Homo sapiens: one gene and its partner. The protein of the gene in region 1 purifies or fractionates together with the protein of each later gene. This does not show direct contact. Each region holds a gene or a part of one and is shown in the gene's direction. Other genes may lie near its edges. The genes, in order: NUDT13 and IVD.

Region 1 (11,902 bases):
AGCGATTTTCCTTGTAATTTTAGTAGAGATAGTTTCACCATGTTGGCCAGGCTGCTCTCAAACTCCTGACCTCAAATGATCCACCTGCCTAGGCCTCCCAGAATGCTGGGATTATAGGCATGAGCTACCGAGCCTGGCCAATTTGAGGAATACTTTTAATGGAACTACTGTGGCAGATTGGTTGCATTAATAGATCCAATTCTTCTCCACTTTCTGTATTCATGTCTGTGTAGTAAAAAATAAACCTTGCCCCAACAGGTATATAAAAATATGCTCAACATCATTATCATCAGAGAAATGCACATCAAAACTACGAGATATCAACTCACCCCAGTTAAAATAGCTTTTATCCAAAATGCAGTCAATAATGAATGCTGGCGAAGATATGGAGAAAGGAGAATTCTCATACACCGTTGGTAGGAATGTAAATTAGTACAGCCACTATGGAGAACAGGATGAAGGTTCCCCAAAAAACTAAAAATAGGACTATCATCTTAATATAATCCAGCAATCCTACTGCTGGGTATTAACCCAAAAGAAAACAAATCAGTACATCAAAGAGATATCTGGCCAGGCATGGTGGCTCATGCCTGTAATCCTAGCACTTTGGGAGGCCGAGGCTGGTGGATCACTTGAGGGCAGGAGTTTGAGACCAGCCTGGGCAACATGGCGAAACCCTGTCTCTACTAAAAATACAAAAATTGGCAGGGCGCGGTGGCTCACGCCTGTAATCCCAGCACTTTGGGAGGCCGAGGCGGGTGGATCACGAGGTCAAGAGATCGAGACTATCCTGGCTAACATGGTGAAACACCGTCTATACTAAAAATACAAAAAATTAGCCGGGCGCGGTGGCAGGCGCCTGTAGTCCCAGCTACTCGCTACTCGGGAGGCTGAGGCAGGAGAATGGCGTGAACCCGGGAGGCGGAGCTTGCAGTGAGCTGAGATCGCGCCACTGCTCTCCAGCCTGGGCGACAGAGCGAGACTCCGTCTCAGAAAAAAAAAAAAAATTAGCCGGGTTTGGTGGCGGGTGCCTGTGTTCCCAGCTCCTGGGGAGGCTGAGGCTGGATCACTTGAGCCTGGGAGGTTGAGGCTGCAGTAAGCCGTGACTGCGCCATTGCACTCCAGCCTGGGCGACAGAGGGAGACTTTGTCTTTTTTTGTTTGTTTGTTTGAGACAGAGTCTCCCTCTATCGCCCAGGATGGAGTGCAAGTGGCGCGATCTCGGCTCACTGATACCTCTGCTTCCCGGGTCCCAGTTCAAGCAATTCTTCCTCAGCCTCCGGAGTAGCTGGGATTACAGGCACGCGCCACCATACCTAGCTAATTTTTGTATTTTTAGTAGAGACAGGGTTTCTCCATATTGGCCAGGCTGGTCTTGAACTCCTGACCTCGTGATCCACCCGCCTCGACCTCCCAAAGTGCTAGGATTACGGTCGTGAGCCACCGCGCCCGGCCAAGATCCTGTCTTAAAAAAAAAAAAATCCCACAAAAAACAAAATCCTGTTTCCATGAGCAGTTACTCCTCATTATCTTTGAACACTATCCTCATCCCCATCCCTAGGCACTTTTTGTCTTACAGATTTGCCTATTCTGAATATTTCACATAAGTGCAATCACAACCCTAGGTATATTTCATATAAATTGCCCCCATTCCTAGGCAGCCACTAATCTGCTTTCTGTCTCTATAGATTTGCCTGTTATGAACATTTCGTAGGAATACAATATGTACTCTTTTGTGACTGGATTATTTCACTTAGCATAATGTTTTCAAGCTTTATCCATATTGTAGTATATATAATTCCTCTTTGTTGCCAGAAATATGTCATTGCATGGTTGGATATGCCACATTTTGCTTCTCCATTTATCAGTTGATAGTCACTTGGGTTGTTTGTACTTTTTTTGAATATTGTGAATAATGCTTCACAAAAATTAATTTACAAGTTTTTGTGGACATTTGTTTTCAATTCTCTTGGGAATATAAATCCAGGAGTTAAATTGCTGGGTCATTTGGTAACTCTATATTTAACTTTACGAGGAACCACCAAACTGTTTTCAAAAGCGGCAGCACCATTTACAATTTTACCAGCTGTGTATGAGGATTCCAATTCCACCACATCCTCACCACTCCTTGTCATTATCTGCATTTTGATTGTAGCTATCCTATTGGGTATAAAATGATATCTCATTATGATTTTGATTTGCATTTCCCATGCAAATCTTTTCATGTGCTTATGGGTCATTTTTCTATCTTCCTTGAAGACGTATCTATTCAGATTCTTTGCTCATTTTAAAATTTGGTTGTTTATCTTTTTATTACTGTGTTATTTAAGTGTTCTTTATATATTCCAGATAGAAGTCCCTTATCAGATACATGTCTTGCAATAATTTTTCCCAATTCTGTGAGTTATCTTTCTATATTCTTCATGATATTGTTTGTAGCACAAAAGTTCTTAAAATTTTGATGTCTTATTTTTTCCTTTGTTGCTTATGCAAAAAAAGCCAGATGAGATTTTAATAGAAATTGCATTGAATCTGTAGATCAATTTGGGGAATATGCCATTTTAACCAAATTAGGCCTTCCAATTTATGAACATGGGATTCTTTCAATCCTTCCAATATTTTCCAATATTTATGTTCAACTTCTCTACCTCACACCCAGTCAGAGATACAATCCAGGTCTATAGTATGGTGGTCAAAAGTACAGATTCTTTCTTAAGACAGATTTAGTTTAATATCCCAACACTTCTACTGATTAGCTGTGTAAATATGGACAAATTACTTTTCTTTTTTTTTTTTTTGAGATGGAGTTTCACTCTGTTGCCCAGGCTGGAATGTAGTCGCTCAATCTTGGCTCACTGCAACCTCCACCTCCTGGGTTCAAGCGATTCTCTTGTCTCAGCCTCCCGAGTAGCTGGGGCTACAAGAGCACGCCACCACACTTGGCTCATTTTTGTATTTTTAGTAGAGACGGGGTTTCACGATATTGGCCAGGCTGGTCTCAAACTCCTGACCTTGTGATCCACCCGCCTTGGCCTCCCAAAGTGCTGGGATTACAGGTGTGAGCCACCGCGCCTCCCCTACTTAATTTTTCTAAGCCTATGTTTTCTCATCTGTAACGTGCAATTTTTTTTTTTTTAGACAGGGTGTCTCTGTCACCAAGCTGGATGGAGTGCAGCATCATGATCTCGGCTCACTCCTGGGCTCAAGCAGTCCTCCTATCTCAGCCTCCTGAGTAGCTGGGACCGCAGGTGCATGCCACCATGCCCAGCTAATTTTCGTATTTTTTGTAGAGATGGTGTTTTGTCATGTTGCTCAGGCTGGTTTCTTGAACTCCTGAACTCAAGCAATCTTCCCACCTCAGTCCCCAAAGTGCTGGGATTACAGGCGTGTGCCACCACACGTAGCCTAAAGTACAAATTTTAATACAGATTTCATAGGATGTGAGGATTAATGACAAATATGTGGGACACTTAGCATAGTGCCTGGAACACAGCAAATGCTCAGTCTGAGCTATTTTTATTATTATAGCACTTAACAATTACTACAAAAAGTTATTTTGACTTTTTAAATTATTAGAGCCCCAATTTCCCCCTAAGCATCCTTAGAATCCATTGACTTTATATCTTGTTTCCCTACAATTTTCTGTGTCTTCCTTAAGGATAATGAACCAATCTGATTTTTTTTTTTTTTTTTTCAGACAATGTCTCGCTCTGTCACCCAGGCTGGAGTGCAGTGGCGCAATCTCAGCTCACTGCAACCTCTGCCTCTCGGGTTCAAGCGATTCTTGTGCCTTAGCCTCCCAAGTAGCTGGGACTACAGGTATGTGACACCAGACCTGGCTTAATTTTGTATTTTTAGTAGGGTTTCACCATGTTGGCCAGGCTGGTCTAAAACTCCTGACCTCAAATGATGTGCCCACCTCGGGCTCCCAAAGTGCTGGGATTACAGGCATGAGCCACCATGCCCGGCCTACTCTGATCTCATCTCTGATCACCATGCTCTTTCCTAGCCTTTCCTCAAACGGCACACTCCCACCCCAGGGCCTTTGCATATGCTTATTTTGCTCTGTCTACAAATCTCTTTCCATAGATATAAATTTGGTTTCTTCATCACCTTCTTCAGGGTCTTTGTTTAAATATTATCTTAACAATGAGGCTGACCATCCTATATAAAATAGCAAAATAATCCCTCTACTTATCTTGCTTTATTTTTCTTCTTAAGCTTTATAACCACGACACATTGTATATTTACTCGTTTGTTTCCCCTTCTAGAATGTAAGTTACATGAGGACAGAGATTTTCATGTTTTGTTCCCTGCTGTATCCTATCCCTATAACAGTCCTAGGCACATTGGGTACTCATTAAATACATGTTGAATGAGTGGACTTCTTCTCTTGGCTGGGTGCGGTGGCTCACGCCTGTAATCCCAGCACTTTGGAAGGCTGAGGCGAGTGGATCACTTGAGGTCAGAAGTTTAAGACAGCCTGGTCAACATGGCGAAACCCTGGCTTTACTAAAAATACAAAAATTAGCCAGGCATGGTGGTGTGCACCTGTTATCCCAGCTGCTCGGGAGGCTGAAGCAGGAGAATCACTTGACTCCGGAGGAGGAGGTTTCAGTAAGCCAAGATTGTACGTACCACTGCTCTCCAACCTGAGCGACAGAGCAACTCCATCTCAAAAAAAAAAAAAGTGTCTTCTCTCATAGGCAAGTAACTTCAGTAGTAAAACGAGAAGAGAGCAGCACCAAAGTAGCTCTGCTGAGAGGTGAAGCCAGCTGGACTTCCTGGGTGGAGTGGGGACTTGGTGAACTTTTCTGTCTAGTTAGAGAATTGTAAATGCACCAATCAGCACACTGTAAAAATGCACCAATCAGCACTCTGTGTCCAGCTAAAGGATTGTAAACACACCAATCAGCACTCTGTAAAAATGCACCAATCAGCGCTCTGTGTCTAGGTAAAGGATTGTAAACGCACCAATCAGCACTCTGTTTCCAGCTAAAGGATTGTAAACACACCAATCAGCACTCTGTAAAAATGCACCAATCAGTGCTCTGTGTCTAGCTAAAGGATTGTAAACACACCAATCAGCACTCTGTGTCTAGCTAAAGGATTGTAAATGCACCAATCAGCACTGTGTCTAGCTAAAGGATTGTAAACGCACCAATCAGCACTCTGTAAAAACGCACCAATCAGCACTCTGTGTCTAGCTAAAGGATTGTAAATGCACAAATCAGCACTCTGTCAAATGGACCAATCAGCACTCCATAAAATGGACCAATCAGTGCTCTGTAAAATGGACCATTCAGCAGGATGTGGGCAGGGACAAATAAGGGAATAAAAGCTGGCACCCCCAACAGCAGCGGCAACCTACTCGGGTCCCCTTCCACGCTGTGGAAGCTTTGTTCTCTCGCTCTTCACAATAAATCTTGCTGCTGCTCACTCTTTGGGTTCGTGCCACCTTTAAGAGCTATAACACTCACCGAAAGCTCCACGGCTTCATTCTTGAAGTCAGCAAGACCAAGAACCCACTGGAAGGAACCAACTCCGGACACACTTCTAGGAGACTACTTCCAGTCAAATGGAATGCGCTTCCTCTGATCAAGAAATGAATCCTACCATAAGTTCAAACATATCTATACATACCTATACAGAGTCCCATCCTTTTAAATTGGAAGAACTTCATGAAATTTTAGAGCTAGTTCTAAAGTGTGCAGAGAGAGAACTAGAGATATACTAAGGTTAAAAGGTATTTGATTCCCACCCCTGCTTCATCCTCTCCCCAGCCTCATAATATATGCCTTCTGTGTATGAGGGTGGACTTAATGACTTTATCTTTTTTTAATTAAAAAATGGATCTAATACTAACCTACTTTCTCCAAGGATACAGTAGTTCTCTTGGTAATAAGATCTTAGATGTTCATGCTTTTGACAATCATGGTTAACTTGCAGCTGGAGAACACAGCAGCATGCCTGGGAACTGAACTACAATTCCCAGAGTGCATCTCTAGGAGGATTCTGGGAAGTGTGGCAGAAGCAGCAATGGTCCCTCCAGGGAACGGAAGCCGTTGAACGTGAACATTTGGAGTTTCCTCTTTTGTGCTGATTCCTGAGGACTAGGAAGGTGCCCCGAAAAGAATTCAGAGTGAGTACAGTGAAACAGAAACCTGCTCAGCTTCTAAGTGCAGGAAGGACTTCACAGGGAGGCATGATCAGAACTTGAAAAAAGGTCGTGGTCACAGCATTTTAACATTTTAGCTTAATCTCTTCCTTTTTGCAGAAACCAGGGATATAACCATAGTTTTGCCTCATAACTGTGGAGCTACATCAGTAACCACAGCTCATCATTTTCTGATACTTTTTTGGAGAGTCATTTAAAAATGGAACTTGCCAACCTCTCACATTGTGCCTTAATTTTTATTTTTTTTTAAAGGAGGGAAAATTATTTTTTAGAAAGCAAACTATAAAGCAGGTCAGTGAGACCTTCAAAGCTGTATTCCCGTGGTTCCTCAGTTTTCCATATTTCCCTGTCCCATGGAGGTCCACAGTCGTGGAGAAACGGACTCTAAACACAGGCGAAGTATCACTTGGTCGCCCAGGCTGGAGTGCAGTGACACGATCTCCACTCACTGCAAGCTCCGCCTCCTGGGTTCATGCCATTCTCCTGCCTCATACTCCCTAGTAGCTGGGACTACAGGCGCCCGCCACCACGCCCAGCCACTTTTTTTTGTATTTTTAACAGAGACGGGGTTTCACCGTGTTAGCCAGGATGGTCTCGATCTCCTGACCTCGTGATCCGCCCACCTCGGCCTCCCAAAGTGCTGGGATTACAGACGTGAGCCACCGCGCCCGGCCTAAAAAAAGGTCTCTTAAATACTAGGGAACCTGGCCTCTTCACGGTGGAAGTAACCACTAGATTCAAGATGGGCTTTTTTTGTTTTGTCTTGTTTTGTTTTGTTTTTTTGTTTTGAGACGGAGTCTCGCTCTGTCGCCCAGGCTGGAGTGCAGTGGCGCGATCTCGGCTCACTACAAGATGGGCTTTTTTGTCACGCTGTAGTACTTTATAATCTTTCTTCTGGAAAGATGAACAGGATAAGAAACGTGTGAATCATTTGTGTTGGGGAGTTCAAAGAAACTCTTAATGTTAAAGCACCTTGCCTCATCATTTAGTAGTTGGGTAAGACTGCTATTACCTTTCATCTCTATCAAACATTGTACTTTTAAAAACATAAATAGCTCTGTGACCATCAGCTCATGAGTCAGCAGCCATGATAATCTACAACTGGCTAAGGTTAATTTAGTAGCAGAAACTAGGCAAAACATCAGGCAGCAGTTCCCAAGGTCCAAGAAACTCACCAAATGAATTCCCTTTGGCTCATGGAATATGGTGAGGTGTTTTGGGGAACAGTGGCATGGAGGTAGCCTCATTAACCAGTTAGTCTCAGGAACTACTATTTTATTAGGCTTTTCTTTTGTCTTAAAAGGAATAAGTACACATGGCTAATTTTTTTTTCAGTACAGAAAAATGAACAAAATAAAAATTACAGGCACCTTTTTCAATATTTGTCTTCATCCCACTCCCCCAAATTAGTCACTCTTTAATAGTTTGGTATGTATACTTCTAGTCATTTGAAAAATATAAATAAGGCCGGGGGCAGTGGCTCTTGCCTGTAATCCCAGCACTTTGGGAGACCCAGGCAGGCAGATCACCTGAGAACAGGAGTTCGAGACCAGCCTGACCAACATGGAGAAACCCCATCTCTACTAAAAAAAATACAAAATTAGCTAGGCGTGGTGGCGTATGCCTGTAATCCCAACTACTCGAGAGGCTGAGGCAGGAGAATCGCTTGAACCCGGGAGGTGGAGGTTGCGGTGAGCCGAGATTGCGCCATTGCACTCCAGCCCGGGCAACAAGAGCGAAACTCCGTCTCAAAAAAAAATAGAAAGAAAAATATAATTAAATACATATAATTTATGTATATTGGTATGTCTGTGTCCTTTTTTTTATAAATAATTAGGTCATGTTAACCAACTGTTACCTGTTTTTTTCTCCAGCTTTATTAAGGTATAATATTAAGGTATTAAAGTATAATATATACTTTTTGACAAAAAAAGTATATATTTATAGTTTACAATGTGATGTTTTGATACAGGTATACATTGTGAAATGATTAAATCTAGCAAATTAATATATTCATCACCTCACATTTTTTGTGTGTGTTGAGAATATTTAATATCTACTTTCTTAGTAATTTCCAAGTATATAATATATTATGAACTATAGTTACCATACAACACAATAGATATCCAGAATTTATTCATCCTAACTGAAACTTTGTACACTTTGACTAGTATCACCTCCAATTCCTCCTTGCTTTTTTTGTTTACTTAATAATGTGTTCTAAGTCTCTCTCCCTGTTACTATATATATATATTTTTTTCACTGTTATATTATTTTCTATTTGTTCTTTTTCTTTTTTTTAAGACGACGTTTTGCTCTTGTTGCCCAGGCTGGAGTGCAATGGCACGATCTCTGCTCACTGCAACCTCTGCCTCCTAGGTTCAAGCGATTCTCCTGCCTCAGCCTCCCAAGTAGGCAGGATTACAAGCGTGTGCCACCACGCCCAGCTAATTTTGTATTTTTAGTAGAGATGGGGTTTCTCCATGTTGGTGAGGCTGGTCTCGAACTCCTGACCTCGGGTGATCCGCCCGCCTCGGCCTCCCAAAGTGCTGGGATTACAGGCGTGAGCCACCGCACCCAGCCCTTCTATTTGTTCTTAAGTCGCGTATTAATCCATTTTATCATAATTTTCAGTTAACGTTCTTGTACATATCCTTTCCTTCCTAGGGTAAATTCCTAAACATGGAATTGCTGAGGAAAAAGAGAGGCTTATTATTTGACACTTTAATAGATATTTCCAAATCAACCTGTAAAAATATCATACCAGTTTACATTCTGAGTGGTGTATGAGCCAGAAATAATGACTTTAAATACATTTTTTATAGTATATCACACTAGTTTTGGGGTTATTAAAGTAGGAATAATACTTTTAATAATCTCCTAGAGTGCTTTGCAACCCACATATTGCATACTGCCTTCTGTGAAAGCTGGCTATATATTTGTTTTCTCTCTCCTGCTAGAGTTCCTTGAGGGCAGGGATTTTCATCTTTTACATTTTTGTGTTCTTTAAGGGACCCTGAATAAAGTCAGTACTCAATAAATACTTTGTTGAATGTCATTTGCTAAATATATTTTACCCATGGCTAGGACATAGATTGTAGCCAAAACTGTCCAAGAATTCATCATCAGTGATTCATAATTATGCAACCAAGAAGTAGGACTAAATTTTAGATGTTCCTCGGTCATTTAGTGTCAAAGCTGGCTTTCCTCAGACACAGTGAAAAGGGTGGTTGGTTATTTAACTGTAATGAATTCTTGACTTTTTTTACTGCCAATGTGAGAGGTACTTTTCATGGGGAATAAAATACTGATATACAATTTAAAGGGACCATCTTGGCCAGAATGGATTATTTAGTTACAGATTTTTTTTCTTTCCCAATGAGCAACAAAAAAATAGAAAATATCTTGGATCCATGTGAATTTGCATAGCTGCCTTCTGAAAAAATTTCCTAATGTTGTGACTTTATATATTCTTATCTACAGGATTCCTTCTACTTCATTCTTACTCTAAGTGGGTAGAACAGGTTTCAGTTTTCTAGATCATGAAAGAAGTACTGAAATGTTGAGATCCCATAGCTACTTAGGGGTAGAAATGCAATTTAGAAACAAGATCACCTGACTCCTATTGAGTTTGTCTTTCCTTAATATTACAGAGTGATCCCATTCTGGCTTAAAGTATAACCCTCTTGGCAATTCATTACTTTAAATTTCATATTATGACTTTTTTTAAAACTCCTTTTTTTTTTTTTTAAGGACCTGACAATGTCCCTGTATTGTGGAATAGCTTGCAGGAGAAAATTTTTTTGGTGCTATAGGCTGCTGTCAACCTATGTTACTAAGACACGGTGAGTTTTAGCCAACCTGAGCTTTGATTATTCTGTTTGGCCCATTAAACTATTGTGATATTATGATTTTATATATATATTTAGGTTTATGATTATTATATATACATTATATATTACTATATTTGTGTGTGTGTATATGTGTGTGTGTGTATATATATATATTCATATATATATATATTCATCCATGGTTTCTGGCTCATAACTCCTATGGCCCTTATTACAGTCTTTTGTTATAATGTGGGGCACTTTAGACCTCAGGGGCAGGCCTCAGGAAACAAAATCTCTTTTACCTTCTCCTGTCCTCCTTTTACCTGCCCATGGCAGGACTCTAATCTGATTGCGGGTCCAAAGACCCTCATTCCAGAGAGGGTTGTGCCCCATACTCCGGAGGAAGGAAGGCTGCACAGAGAGGCCAAGGAGAACCTGAACAGACAGGCATTGCTGGGTTTCCGGTCAGTCTATTATTATGAAATCATAACCATTTTGTCCAATCAGATTTCTACATGGTTGTCAATCATGCCTATGTAATGAAGCCACCATAAAAACCCAAAAGGACAGGGTTCAGAGAGCCTCTGGATAGCTGAACACATGGAAGTTCCTGGAGGGTGGTGCACCCAGGGAGTCATGGAAGCTCTGCACCCTCCCCCCACATACCTGACCTAAATGCATCTCTTCATTTGTATCCTTCGTAATATCCTATATAATAAACCAGTAAACATCAAAAAATATATATTTTTACTTTTTTAGAGATGGAGTCTCACTCTGTCACTCAGGCTGAAGTGCAGTGGTACAATCTTGGCTCACTGAAGCCTTGATCTCCTGGGGTCAAGCGATCCTCCCACCTCAAACCCCCAAGTAGCTGGGACTACAGGCATATGCCACCATGCCTGGCTAATTTTTATATTTTTGTGTAGAGACAGGGTTTTGCCATGTTGTCCATGCTGGTCTGAACTGAGCTCTGGCAATCCACCTGCCTTGACCTCCCAAAGTGTTGGGATTACAGGCGTAAGTCACCAAACCTGGCCGAAAAATTTTAAACAAACTAAATATCCAATAATATCTAAAATATCTCACACACTTGAATATAAGTTCTATTAAGATCAGACTTTGTCTTTCCACTGTGGTACCCCTACTTCATAAAACAGTGCCTGGCACATGGTAGGCACTAAAGTACTGTTGAATGAATGAACAGTAAGGGAGAAATTAAGTAAATTAAGGTACTATAATAGAATAATAAACATGTTAAAATTATATTGTTCTATTCCTGTCACTTCAGATGAAAAAAACTGTATTGAATAATATTTCATGAAGTTTCCTATAAATAAAGTAGATAACCCCACCCCCTTCCCCCAAGAACTAAACTTCAGTGAAAGGTAGAGTAGGAAAACAAAATCTACAATAGCACATGAAGATGATAAAGACTTTTTTGTCTTAGCCTAGGGAAATTAGAAATCTGTGAATTTGAAATCACTAGCCTGCTTTCATACAGTTTTGGGGGTTAAATTTATACCATCTATGTGGTGTGGTTCTAGAACCCTTAACCTAAGAAATAATTTTTTTTTCTTTTTTTTCTTTTTGAGACAGGATCTTGCTCTGTCACACAGGCTGGAGTGCAGTGCTATGATCATAGCTCACTGCAGCCTCAACCTCCCAGGCTGAATCAATTCTCCCACCAAGTAGCTAGGATCACATGCGTAGCTACTTGTACACCACCATGCCTGGCTAATTTTTTTTTATTGTTTGTAAGGTAGGGTCTTGCTATGTTGCCCAGGCTGGTCTCAAACTCCTGGGCTCAAGCAATCCTCCTGCCTTTACCTCCCAAAGTGCTGGGATTATAGGCATGAGCCACCATGCCCAGCCTAAGAAATGAATTTAAGTAG
Region 2 (12,497 bases), on another chromosome or scaffold:
ACTTTGGTGAGCAAAAGAATTTGAGAGCAAATCCAAAGTAAAAGTAGGCAAAGTAGTTTATTGCAAAGTGAAAGTACACTCTTGATAGCTGGGCCAGAGAGGGCTACTTGAGAATGAGACAGCCCCATCCTACACTGGGGAAATTACCTTTATGAGAAGCTTATATAATTATTCATTAAAGGGTGGGAATGAGTGTTGCTGTTAAGCATGTTGTGGAAGGTCTTCTGGATGAGCACACACTATTGCTATACATGCCAGTATATACATTGCATGTCTCATTAGCATTGTAATTCTCCATCCTGGGGTGTGTTTTTACTGTTAAATGAGTATAGGTCAACCTAAAGACACTGACCAAGGGTTTCTGTCCCTGTGCAAGCTCGAGGTTTTTTCCCCTTTTACTCTTTTTCCTCCTTGCAGCAGGATGTTCTGACCACGAGTTCCTGATGCGGTTTGTGCAGCGTTGAGCTGTGCTCTCCATCTGTCTGTTTGGCAAGTATCTTCTTCCCCTTTAAGTGAGGCTGTGACCAACCTACCTGATCTATCTCAACTGCACTCCAGCCTAGGCTACAGAGTGACACCGTGTCTCAAAAGATAGTAATAATTTATATATTTGGGGATAATTTTAGATTTATGGAAAAGTTGCAAAGATAGTCCAGAGAATTCCCATATACCCCTTCCCCAGCTTCCCCTAATGTTAACATCTCACAATACCATGGCACATTTGTCAAAACTAAGAAACCAGCATCAGTAGATCATTATTAACTAAACCCTGGGCTTTATTTGGATTTCATTGGTCTGTCTACTAATGTAGTTTTTCTGTTTTAGGATCTCGTTCAGGATGCCATATTGTATTTTGTCATTAGTTATTATGTCTCCTTAGTCTCCCCTGGTCAATGACAGTTTCTCAATCTGTTTCTGTTTTTCATGACCTTGACAGTTTCAAGGAGTAGCGGTCAGATATTTTGTAGAATATCCCTCAATTTGGATTTGTCTGATTTTTCTTTCTTTTTTTTTTTTTTTTTTTTGATGATTAGACTGTGGTTATGTGTTTTAGGGAAGAATACCACATATGTAAAGTGTACTCAACGCATCATATTGAGAGGTGAAGCCAGCTGGACTTCTGGGTCGGGTGGGGACTTGGAGAACTTTTCTGTCTTACAAGAGGATTTTAAAATGCACCAATCAGTGCTCTGTAGCTAGCTAGAGGTTTGTAAAATGCGCCAATCAGCACCTTGTAAAATGGGCCAATCAGTGCTCTGTAAAATGGACCAATCAGCAGGATCTGGGCGGGGACAAATAAGGGAATAAAAGCTGCCCCCCAGCCCCGCCACCACCCCCCAACCCCAGCCAGCGGTGTCTAGCAGCTCGGCTCCCCATCCAGGTTGTGGAAGCTGTTCCTTTGCTCTTCAGAATAAATCTTGCTGCTGCTCACTCTTTGGTTCCATGCCACCTTTAAGAGCTGTAATACCACGAAGGTCCACAGCTTCATTTTTAAAGTCAGCGACACCAAGAACCCACCAGAAGGAACCAGCTTTGCACACGATATTACAGGTATATAACATCAACTTGACTTGTTGCTAGTGATATTAACTTTGATCACTTGGTTAAGGCAGTGTTAGCCGGGTTTCTCCACTGTAAAGTTACTGTTATACTCCTTCCATACTCTCTTTAGAAGTCATCACTAATTCCAGCCACTCTCAAGGGGAGTAAGAACTATCTACCTGTCTATATTGTTTGGAATTCTTCTGTAAGGAGGATTTCTGCCTTCTCCCTCCCATTTATTTATAACAATATAAACATGTTTGTTTTTTTCTGTTCTTTTTTTTTTTTTTTTTTTTTTTTTTTAAGACAGTCTTGCTCTGTGGCCCAGGCTGGAGTACAGTGTTGCGATCTTGGTTCACTGCCACTTCGCCTCCCAGTTTCAAACGATTCTCCTGCCTCAGCCTCCTGAGTAGCTGGGACTACAGGTGCACACTACCTTGCCTGGCTAATTTTTGTATGTTTGCAAAAATGAGGTCTCATCAAGTTGACCAGGCTGGTCTCAAACTCCTGACCTTAGGTGATCTGCCCACCTTGGCCTTCCAAAGTGCTGGAATTATGGATGTAATTATATACCACACCTGGCCTGTATGAACAAGTTTTTACTTTGTTTTTTCAACTTTTATGTTCAGGGGTGCATGTGCAGGTTCGTTACATAGGTAAACTGCCTGTCACCCAGGTGACGAGCATGGAACCCGATAGGTAGTTTTCTGATCCTCACCCTCCACCCACCCTCCACCCTCAAGTAGGCCCCAGTGTCTGCTGTTGCCTTCTTTGTGTCTGTGTGTACTCAATGTACTCAACTCCCATTTATAGGAGAGAACATGCAGTATTTTATGTTTTTACTTTATACTTTCATTTGTTCGATTTTTACCTTACTTTGTTGCTCAAAGCTTTATTGTTCACCTTTCATATTAAGGTTTATTATCTACCTCTAATCTTTTGTATCATATGAAATCGGAGTCTTGCTCTGTCGCCCAGGCTGGAGTGCAGTGGTGCAATCTCGGCTCACTGCAAGCTCCGCCTCCCGGGTTCACGCCATTCTCCTGCCTCAGCTTCCCAAGTAGCTGGGACTACAGGTGCCCGCCACCACGCCCGACTAATTTTTTGTATTTTTAGTAGAGACGGGGTTTCGTCGTGTTAGCCAGGATGGTCTCGATCTCCTGACCTCGTGATCCGCCCAGCTTGGCCTCCCAAAGTGCTGGGATTACAGGCATGAGCCACCGTGCCCGGCCTTCTTTTGTAATGTTTCTTGTAAGATTTTTGGTATCAGGATTATATTGGCCTCATAAAATGAGTTGAAATAATAAGTTTGGTATTATTTCCTTTTTTTTTTTTTTTTTTTTTTTCCGAGACGGAGTCTCGCTCTGTTGCCCAGGCTGGAGTGCAGTGGCGCAATCTCGGCTCACTGCAAGCTCTGCCTCCCGGGTTCACGGCATTCTCCCGCCTCAGCCTCCCAGTAGCTGGGACCACAGGCGCCCGCCACCACGCCCGGCTACTTTTTTTTTTTTTTTTTTTTTTTGTATTTTTAGTAGAGACGGGGTTTCACCATTCACAGGATGGTCTTGATCTCCTGACCTTGTGATCCGCCCACCTCGGCCTCCCAAAGTGATGGGATTACAGGCTGAGCCACCGGGTATTATTTCTTGTTTATTCTCTCTTAGGTTTATACCCATATTTTTTTTTCTTTTTCTTTTTTTTTTTTTTTGGTTTGAGACGGAGTCTTGCTCTGTCGCCCAGGCTGGAGTGATGTGGCGTGATCTCCACTCACTGCAACCTCTGCCTCCCGGGTTCAAGCGATTCTACTGCCTCAGCCTCCCGTGTAGCTGGGACTATAGTCTCCCGCCACCATGCCCGGCTAATTTTTTGTATTTTTAGTAGAGATGGGGTTTCACTATGTTGGCCAGGCTGGTCTTGAACTCCTGACCTCGTAATCCGCCCGCCTCGGCCTCCCAAAGTGCTGGGATTACAGGCGTGAGCCACCGCGCCCGGCCTATACCCATATTTCTTACTTAAGTATTTGGAAGAATTCATTAGTGAAGTCATTTACGCTTGGAGTTTTCTTCATGGAAAGTTTTTCATTGTGGATTTCAATTTATTTAGTAGATATAGGACTATTCAGATTTTCTGTTATGTCAGTTTGTGTCAGTTTGATTTGTCTATTTCATCTACATTATCAAATGTATTAGCATAAATTGCTCAAAATATCCTTATCTTTTTCATATCTGTAGGATTTGAGAGCTGTCCCCTTTTTAATTCTTGATATCAGACATTTGCAATTTCTCTTTTTTTCTTGATAAGTCTTGCTAGCGGTTTATCAATTTTTAAAATCTTCTTTTTATTTTAGGAGATAGGGTCTTTCTATGTTGCCCAGACTAGACTCCAACCCCTGGGCTCAAGCAATCCTCCTGCATCGGCCACCTGAGTAGCTGGGATTACAGGTATGTACCACAGCACCCAGCTTAATTTTGTTAATCTTTTTATTTTTTGTTTTTAATTTTTTTAGAGACAGGGTTTTGTTCCGTTGCCTAGACTGGAGTACAGTGGCCTGATCATTACACACTGTGACCTCAAACTCCTGGGTTCAAACCATCCTCCTGTCTCAGTCTCTCAAGAAGCTGAGACTACAAGCACAACCCACCACCGCTGGCTAATTTTTAAAATTTTTTGTAGAGACTGGTCTTATTGTGTTGCTCAGGCTGGTCTCGAACTCCTCACCTCAAGTGATCCTACTGCCTCAGCCTCCCAGAATGTTGGAATTACAGGCGTGAGCCACCATGCCTGGCCCACATTACCTCTTAAGATGACTCAAAAGCGCTTCAAACATAATTGTGCCCAAAACAAGCTCAAAGTCTTTCCTCTCAGACCTGATTCTTTTCCAGTGAACCTACACATTTATTGTAGGTTTGAGTTAAGAAAAGTGCCAACAGTGCAACACATAAATAGGCAAAGGACATGATCTGACAGTCCACAGAAAAATAAGGGCTTTCGGTATGAAAAAATCCTCCACCTCATTCATAAGAAGAAAAACTAAGTTGTATCTATACAATGGAATAGTCTTTAAAAAAAGAAAAAAGAGGACGCTCTTAACATAGTGATATGCCAAGATCTCCAAGATACATTGTTAAGTGTAAGAAGAATATATATTCATAATTGCTTGTATTTACATAAAACTGTGGAATATTTAAGAAACTAATAAAGGTGGGCTGGTACAGTGGCTCATGCCTGTAATCCAAGCAGTTTGGGAGGCCAAGGCAGGAGGATTGCTTGAGGCCAGGAATTTGAGACCAGCCTGGGTAACATAGTGAGACCCTCATCTCTACAATATACATACATATATATATATATGTATGTATATGTGTATAGATGTATATATTAGGCCGGTGGCATGTGCCTGTAGTCCCATCTACTTGGCAGGCTGAGGCCAGAGGATTGCTTGAGTCCAGTCATGGCAGTAAGCCATGATTGTGCCACTGTGCTCCAGCCTAGGTGACAGAGATCCTGTCTCAAAAAAAAAAAAAAAAAAATTTAATTTCAACCTGATTTAAAAAAAAAAAAAAGCGGCCGGGCGCGGTGGCTCACGCCTGTAATCCCAGCACTTTGGGAGGCCAAAGTGGGCGGATCACGAGGTCAGGAGATCAAGATCATCCTGGCTAACACGGTGAAACCCCGTCTCTACTAAAAGTACAAAAAATTAGCCAGGCGTGGTGGCAGGCGCCTGTAGTCCCAACTACTCGGGAGACTGATGCAGGAGAATGGTGTGAACCCGGGAGGCGGAGCTGGCAGTGAGCCGAGATGGCGCCACTGCACTCCAGCCTGGGCGACAGAGTGAGACTCCGTCTTAAACAACAACAACAACAAAAAAGCAGTGCTATGATCGGGTGTTAACTTCTCAGTAGTACTTCAAATTATGGTGAGGGGGTGAGTTAGAAGCTGAGGAATGGGTGCAGGGAAGTTGGATGTGGTATGAATGATCTAAAAATGAGAGCAATGTGCCAAGTACTGTGCTGAATCATTAAGTATGCAATCTCTTTTATTCCTCATAGTAGCCTTAAAGTTGGTTGGTATCATTTTCGTTTTAAAGATGATGAAACAGTGACTGAAAAGATCTAAGAAACTTGCCGAAAGTCCCACAGCTATGTAGTGGGATTGCATAGACTCCTGGACTCAGGGTACCAACCTGAGATGAGTTGTTCAAGAGCATTGACTTGGCTGGGTTCCGTGGCTCATGCCTGTAATCCTAGCACTTTGGGAGGCCAAGACAGGAGGATCACATGAGCCCAGGAGTTCAAGATCAGCTTGGGCAACATAGTGAGACTGCCCACCCCCACCCCGGCCCCATCTCTAATTAATTAATTAAATTTTAAAAATAACATTGACACAACATGGAGGAGGAAAATAGAGCAAGTGGAGAGGGGATAGAGACTTAATTCCATCAGCTCCCCTCTTTCCCCTCACCACTCTTCCTTTCCCTGTGTCCCGAACCCGTGTTTCTAAGTCCTGACTGCTATTATTCTGGTGTATTAAATACATACTATTTACTATTTAATACATCTTTTGTTGTTGTTTGTTTTCTCAAATTTTTTGTGGAGACAGGGTCTCCCTATGTTGCACAGGATGGTCTTGGACTCCTGGCCTCGAGCGATCTTCCCACCTAAGCTCCCAAAGTCCTAGGATTACAGGCATGAGCAACCATGCCCAGCCTATTTAATACATCTTATTTAATATATAGTATAATACGTAAATATGTACTATTTAATATTTAACACATATTAAATACAAATGGTCCCCAACTTACAATAGTTCAACTTAAGATTTTTCAACTTTATGATGGTGTGAAAGTGATAGACATTGAATAGAAACTGTACAATATTCAATAAATGATATCTAACACTGTCTTATAAAATATGCTTTGTGTTACATGATTGTGCCGTTATAAGCTATTATAAGTGTTCCAAGTACGTTTAAGGTCCACTAGTCTAAGCTATGATGTTTGGTAGGTTAGGTGTTTTTTTGTTTTCTGTTTTGAGACGGAGTGTCACTCTTGTTGCCCAGGCTGGAGTGCAATGGCGTGATCTCAGCTCACCGCAACCTCCACCTCCCGGGTTCAAGCGATTCTCCTGCCTCAACCTCCTGAGTAGCTGGGATTACAGGCATGCACCACCACGCCCAGCTAATTTTTGTATTTGTAGTAGAGACAGGATTTCTCCATGTTGGCCAGGCTGGTCTAAAACTCTCCGCCTCAGGTGACTCACCCGCCTCGGCCTCCCAAAGTGCTGGGATTACAGGTGTGAGCCATCATGCCCGGCCTAAGTGTATTTTCAAAGTGCATTTTTGACTTACAATATTTTCCATTTATGATGGGTTTATCGAGAAGTAACCCCACTGTAAATCGAGGCGCATCTCCAATCTAGAAGGCAGCTACTCCTTAATAACCCCTTTCCCATAAAACATGAATCTAAATCTACAAACCTTGTTATATAATAAAGCAAGATGTACTCTGTTATGATCAGTGTGCACGTTAGAGCAAGCACTACTTTTCCGATCTTAATTATTCCAGAGATGCTTGACCAATTTACTGGGTACGTGGGCAGTTTTCTGATTGCTGTTTCCACACTCTGCTTTCCCACAGAGAGATTTCCGCAGTTAGGGGCTGCTATTTCAACGCAGGGAGATAAAAAGAAAAAAACACTTGCTCTTCTACCCCGCTAAAAACACTCATCCTAGGGAGCACGCCAGCATTTGCAGCGTTCGGGGCAGGGCCACTCGGCCTGCGGCCGTTGCACTGGCTGGAAGCTGGCAGGCGATCACGGTTGATTGGCTCGGGTGCGGTCCAAGGGCAGCAACGCCTTCGGCGGGCCGCCTAGGGTGATTGGCTGCTGCAGCCCACCCCCTAGCCGGTTTGGTGGGCGGCGAAGCCTGGATTGGTGGAGCTAAGAGCTGGCTCAGTTTCAGCGCTGGCTCTTCGTGCATGGCAGAGATGGCGACTGCGACTCGGCTGCTGGGGTGGCGTGTGGCGAGCTGGAGGCTGCGGCCGCCGCTTGCCGGCTTCGTTTCCCAGCGGGCCCACTCGCTTTTGCCCGTGGACGATGCAATCAATGGGCTAAGCGAGGAGCAGAGGCAGGTGAGGAGACTGACCCCCTTCCTGGCCCCAAGGCCTCCTTCCTGCCTGGTCCCCAAGGCCTCCTTCCTGCCTGGTCCCCATCGGCCCAGCGCCCACCCAGCCTTGGCTTTTGCCCGTGGGCCGTTGGGAGCGCCAGCGCGGGGGCGGGACGCGGGGCCTCCGACCTCGGGTCCAGTCCTCTGACCTCGGCCTCACGTCTGTGGAGTGAAGATTTGAGACCGTGGGACAGTACTGCTGGAAGTAGAGAGGAGGAGTCGAGGCTGGGAGAGCTCCTGAGAGACTGATGGTGTTTTGGTGGAGGATTGGCCAGGCTACCTACCGCTTGTGGCACAAGGGCCCTCAATCTGTATGTAGTTCACTTACACCTGAACAGGCTGAGGTATGCTTCTCACACCTGGGTGGTCATCGTAATCACCAGGGAGTCTTTTTTGTATAAACAGTTTGGGGGTTTTAAAAAGCCACAGTGAGCTCTCCTGTCGCTCTTCAGCCCATTGGGTCAAAACACAAAAGTTGAACAAGTACTTGAAAGAAGTAGTTGGAGGCCAGGCGCCGTGGCTCACACCTGTAATCCTAGCACTTTGGGAGGCCGAGGTGGGAGGATTGTTTGAGCTCAGGGGTTTGAGATCAGCCTAAGCAACATAGCCAGACCCCCATCTCATAAAAAATAGAAAAGAAGACGAAGTAGTATTTACAAATGGAGCAGAACCAGAGTCCTTCCTGAGGTTTCACTTGGAGGCTGGATGGAGTTGGCGGAGGTATGAGCCTCCCAGCAACTCCGTAGTTTATGTTTATAGCCAGCGAGCGCTCAGAGCTTCCGTGAACCACCTCAAGTGGAAAGGGTTCAATCCCTATTCTCAAGCTTTCCTGGCAAGAGGAGTTTCTTTTCTTTTTTCTTTTTTTTTTTTTTTTGAGACGGAGTTTCACTCTTGTTGCCCAGGCTGGAGTGTAATGGCGCGATCTCCGCTCACCACAACGTCCGCCTCCCGGGTTCAAGTGATTCTCCTGCCTCAGCCTCCCAGGTAGCTGGGATTACAGGCATGCACCACCACGCCCGGCTAATTTTGTGTTTTTAGTAGAGACGGAGTTTCTCCATGTTGGTCAGGCTGGTCTCAAACTCCCAACCTCAGGTGATCCTCCTGCCTCGGCCTCCCAAAGTGCTGGGATTACAGGCATGAGCCACCATGCCCAGCCGCCAAGAGGCGTTTCTAATCTCTTTGGGTAATCAGACCCTTTTAGCCAAAGGTTCGGGGGCTTAAAAGAGCCTGACAACTATTGAGATCTGGCAGCTGCCTGGAATGCAGCTGGAGCACAGAGGGTGGGAGGTGGGAAGGTGCTGGGGAAGCTAGGAGAGTCAGCTGGGGTCAGCTCCTGCAGGGCCTAGTAGGCCTGGGTGAGAAGCTTGTGTTTTATTCTAAGTACAGTGGAAACCAATGGAATGATTTTTATGTAAAGTGTGACGTTTTAAAAATTACCATCAAGCTGTCTAGGCTGAAGACCTTAAGAAAGAGGGGTGAAGATCATCTCTGAGGAGGCATAAACTACTGAGGCCTCTCAGTTTCAGTCTGATGCTGTTTGGGGAAGTTACTTGTGGCCTTTTCTCTTGAATGTGTCTGGGTAGTGGAGATGCTGTCTGCAGTGGCATCTGTTTACCTCTCTCCTATTAGCTTCGTCAGACCATGGCTAAGTTCCTTCAGGAGCACCTGGCCCCCAAGGCCCAGGAGATCGATCGCAGCAATGAGTTCAAGAACCTGCGAGTGAGTTGGGAGGTCCGGGCAGTCGGGGGCAGTCAGGGAGTGGGGCTGAGCTGCACTGCTGCCTGGAAGAGCTCACACAGTTTTCTGGTAAATGAAGCCTCTCTAAGAATGCAGCCCCTCTCTCTGAAGTGTTTGGGTCTCATTGTTCCAGCCACATGTGACTGGCTGCCTTCCCCTCAACACTTATTCCACTCTGCTCCATTCTGTTGGCAGGAATTTTGGAAGCAGCTGGGGAACCTGGGCGTATTGGGCATCACAGCCCCTGGTGAGTATAGTGTCTTTCCCTAAAAAGAACTTTTCTTATGTGCCCTTTAAGACAGTTCCCAAAAGAAGCAGGAAGGGAAGGGAAAGATTGTGCTTAAAGAAACCCAGAACTGCATCTTTTGGACCTGTGAAAGCACCCATTGATTGTCAGCCCAGAGAACAGGACACTCTTCTATTTTATTAGACAGTGATGTAGAGAAGGCAGAGGGATTAATTAGGTCATTGTGGCTCACTTGGATCAGGATCAGTCCAACTCTTGAACTCTGCATACTTAATAGGCTCACCCAGGTGATTTGGGAAGTTTAGAAAACTCTGGATCAAGTGGTTGTCTTCATAGTACCTCAGTCTTACTGCCTCCCCTAATCCCTATAAGCTTTGTCCTACCAGTGGCCTCTCGGCAGGAACACTCTGGGCAGGTGTGTCCCTGCAGGGACTGCCTGTGTCCTCTTCTGCTTAAACCTTGGAGCTCATTTGGGAGCAGATAGCGGGGGGAGTAGGGTAGGGGCTGGGCAGGGGAGAGAGATGTCTATCTGGGCTTCCAGGTGAGGTGGCCAGATGATGTGTTTAATAGGCTGTCCGGAGGGAGAAGGCAGGGAGCTAGCAGGCTCTGGTTTGGATGATATTAACGTCTGAAAGAGGCCCAGACTGGCTTGCAGTGCCCGGTAAAGAGATGAGCCTAGGCCAGGCGTGGTTGCTCACACCTGTAATCCCAGCACTTTGGGAGGCCGAGGCAGGTGGATCACCTGCGGTCGTGAGTTCGAGACCAGCCTGACCAACATGGAGAAACTCTGTCTCTACTAAAAATACAAAATTAGCTGGTCATGGTGGTACATCCCTGTAATCCCAGCTACTCGGGAGGCTGAGGCAGGAGAATTGCTTGAACCTGGGAGGCGGAGGTTGCAGTGAGCTGAGATTGTGCCACTGCACTCCAGCCTGGGCAACGGAGCGAAACTCCGTTTCAAAAAAAAAAGCCCAGCCTGCTTGGGCCTGTATTCACTCTGGGCATGAGAGTATGAGTGGAACCCAATATACTTCTCCTTACATCCTAGAAAGTTATATCACCTTTCATAAAATGAAACCACTTGAAGATTAATTGAAACCATCTTAATGTAAAAGCATTAGGGGAAAGGCTGCTGGGTACTCCTAAGCAAGACTCTCCTACTGTGTTTTGGGGGTTTATGTACCCCACTCCCTGCAGACAATATGCTTCTGAATCAGATTGTATTTTACGGAAGAAAGAGGCAGTTAGAAATCAGATGAAAATGGCCAGGTGTGGTAGTGGGCTCCTATAATCCGAGTGACTCGGGAGGCCAAGGCAGGAGGATCGCTTGAGCCCAGGAGTTCAAGGCTGCAATGAGCCATGGTTACACCATTGCACCCCAGCCTGGATAAGAGAGTGAGAGCCCGCCTCTTGAAAAAAAAAAAGAAAAGAAATCAGATGAAAACTCTTTCAAGGGAACCTGAAAAAGAAAGCTGGTTACAAGTTCTGGTTTCTGCATGATGTCATGGTGGCTGTTTCTAATGTCACCTGCCTTCAGGCTTTCCTTCCTGCAGTTGTAGGGGCAGGTCAAGGTTTCCTTAGAGCCTAGAACGAGCCTGACTTATTGGTCAGAGTGAACATGTGTATAGGACCTTGCTAGGCTTGACCCAATCAGCAGGGCTGGGGGTGGTATCAGGTGTCTCAGCCACTTGGAGTTTGGATCTGCTGCCAAGGAAAAACCGTATATTTTATGAGGAGTTCTGAAATTCTCTGCCAGCATCTCATCTGCCCTCTGCTGTACAGCTCACCTCAAGATTTTCCCTGAGGCTGTGGCTCTCCTGTCCTGTCACCAGTCCTGCTTCTTTCTTTTTTTTTTTTTTTTTTTGAGACAGAATCTCACTCTGTCGCCCAGGCTGGAGTGCAGTGGCGCGATCTCGGCTCTCTGCAAGCTCCACCTGCCAGGTTCACACCATTCTCCTGCTTCAGCCTCCCGAGTAGCTGGGACTACAGGCGCCCGCCACCATGCCCGGCTAATTTTTTGTATTTTTAGTAGAGACGGGGTTTCACCGTGTTAGCCAGGATGGTCTTGATCTCCTGACCTCGTGATCTGCCCACCTCAGCCTCCCAAAGTGCTGGGATTACAGGCGTGAGCCCCATGCCTGGCCTCCAGTCCTGCTTCTTTGGGTTCAGCCCTATGCTATAAAATCTCACCTTCCTCAGGCCTTTTGCAGACACATCAGATCCTCTGGCTTTGTATCTGTTCTTGGTGCTTTGGACACCACCTCCACCCCAATGCCTTTGTTTTTCTCCAGGCCCTCTTTCTTCATTTATTCATCTGCCTCTGCATTTCTGTAACTTTCTGAGTAGTGGGTGCTCAGGTTGTTCACGTATCTTCATCAAGAAGTCTGTCTGGGATAAAGCAGAAGTTGCAATGATTGCCTTCTGAATCACCCCTCAGCTGAGGAGCACCAGCAGGCAAAACCAGTCCACTGAGCTTGTAAGCAGGTCTGTGGCATCAGCTTATTCTTGTTGCTAGAGAGAATTTGGAGTAGGTGCTACAAGGTGCTTCCCTTCTGCCGTCAAATGTAAGATTCTTAATGAATGTCCCGATTTAATCTGGGCTGCGTTTTCCACTCCCTTGTACCACACCACTCACAGTTCAGTATGGCGGCTCCGGCCTGGGCTACCTGGAGCATGTGCTGGTGATGGAGGAGATATCCCGAGCTTCCGGAGCAGTGGGGCTCAGTTACGGTGCCCACTCCAACCTCTGCATCAACCAGCTTGTACGCAATGGGAATGAGGCCCAGAAAGAGAAGTATCTCCCGAAGGTGAGGAA

The links.
Region 2: the proteins of NUDT13 (region 1) and IVD purify together in Homo sapiens (affinity purification with mass spectrometry; 2 studies listed by BioGRID and IntAct, with this or other methods). This does not show direct contact.

Annotation. Positions count from the first base shown.
Region 1 is NC_000010.11:73,104,427-73,116,328, forward strand, and holds the start of NUDT13 (NAD(P)H pyrophosphatase NUDT13, mitochondrial), read left to right. Parts: upstream 1-6,028; 5' UTR 6,029-6,141; intron 6,142-9,930; 5' UTR 9,931-9,939; coding exon 9,940-10,022; intron 10,023-11,902. UniProt on the Homo sapiens protein: NAD(P)H pyrophosphatase that hydrolyzes NADH into NMNH and AMP, and NADPH into NMNH and 2',5'-ADP. Has a marked preference for the reduced pyridine nucleotides.
Region 2 is NC_000015.10:40,398,309-40,410,805, forward strand, and holds the start of IVD (isovaleryl-CoA dehydrogenase, mitochondrial isoform 1 precursor), read left to right. Parts: upstream 1-7,486; 5' UTR 7,487-7,510; coding exon of another isoform or gene 7,511-7,519; coding exon 7,520-7,663; exon of another isoform or gene 7,664-7,946; coding exon of another isoform or gene 7,947-8,042; intron 8,043-9,327; coding exon 9,328-9,417; coding exon of another isoform or gene 9,418-9,504; intron 9,505-9,630; coding exon 9,631-9,682; intron 9,683-12,319; coding exon 12,320-12,489; intron 12,490-12,497.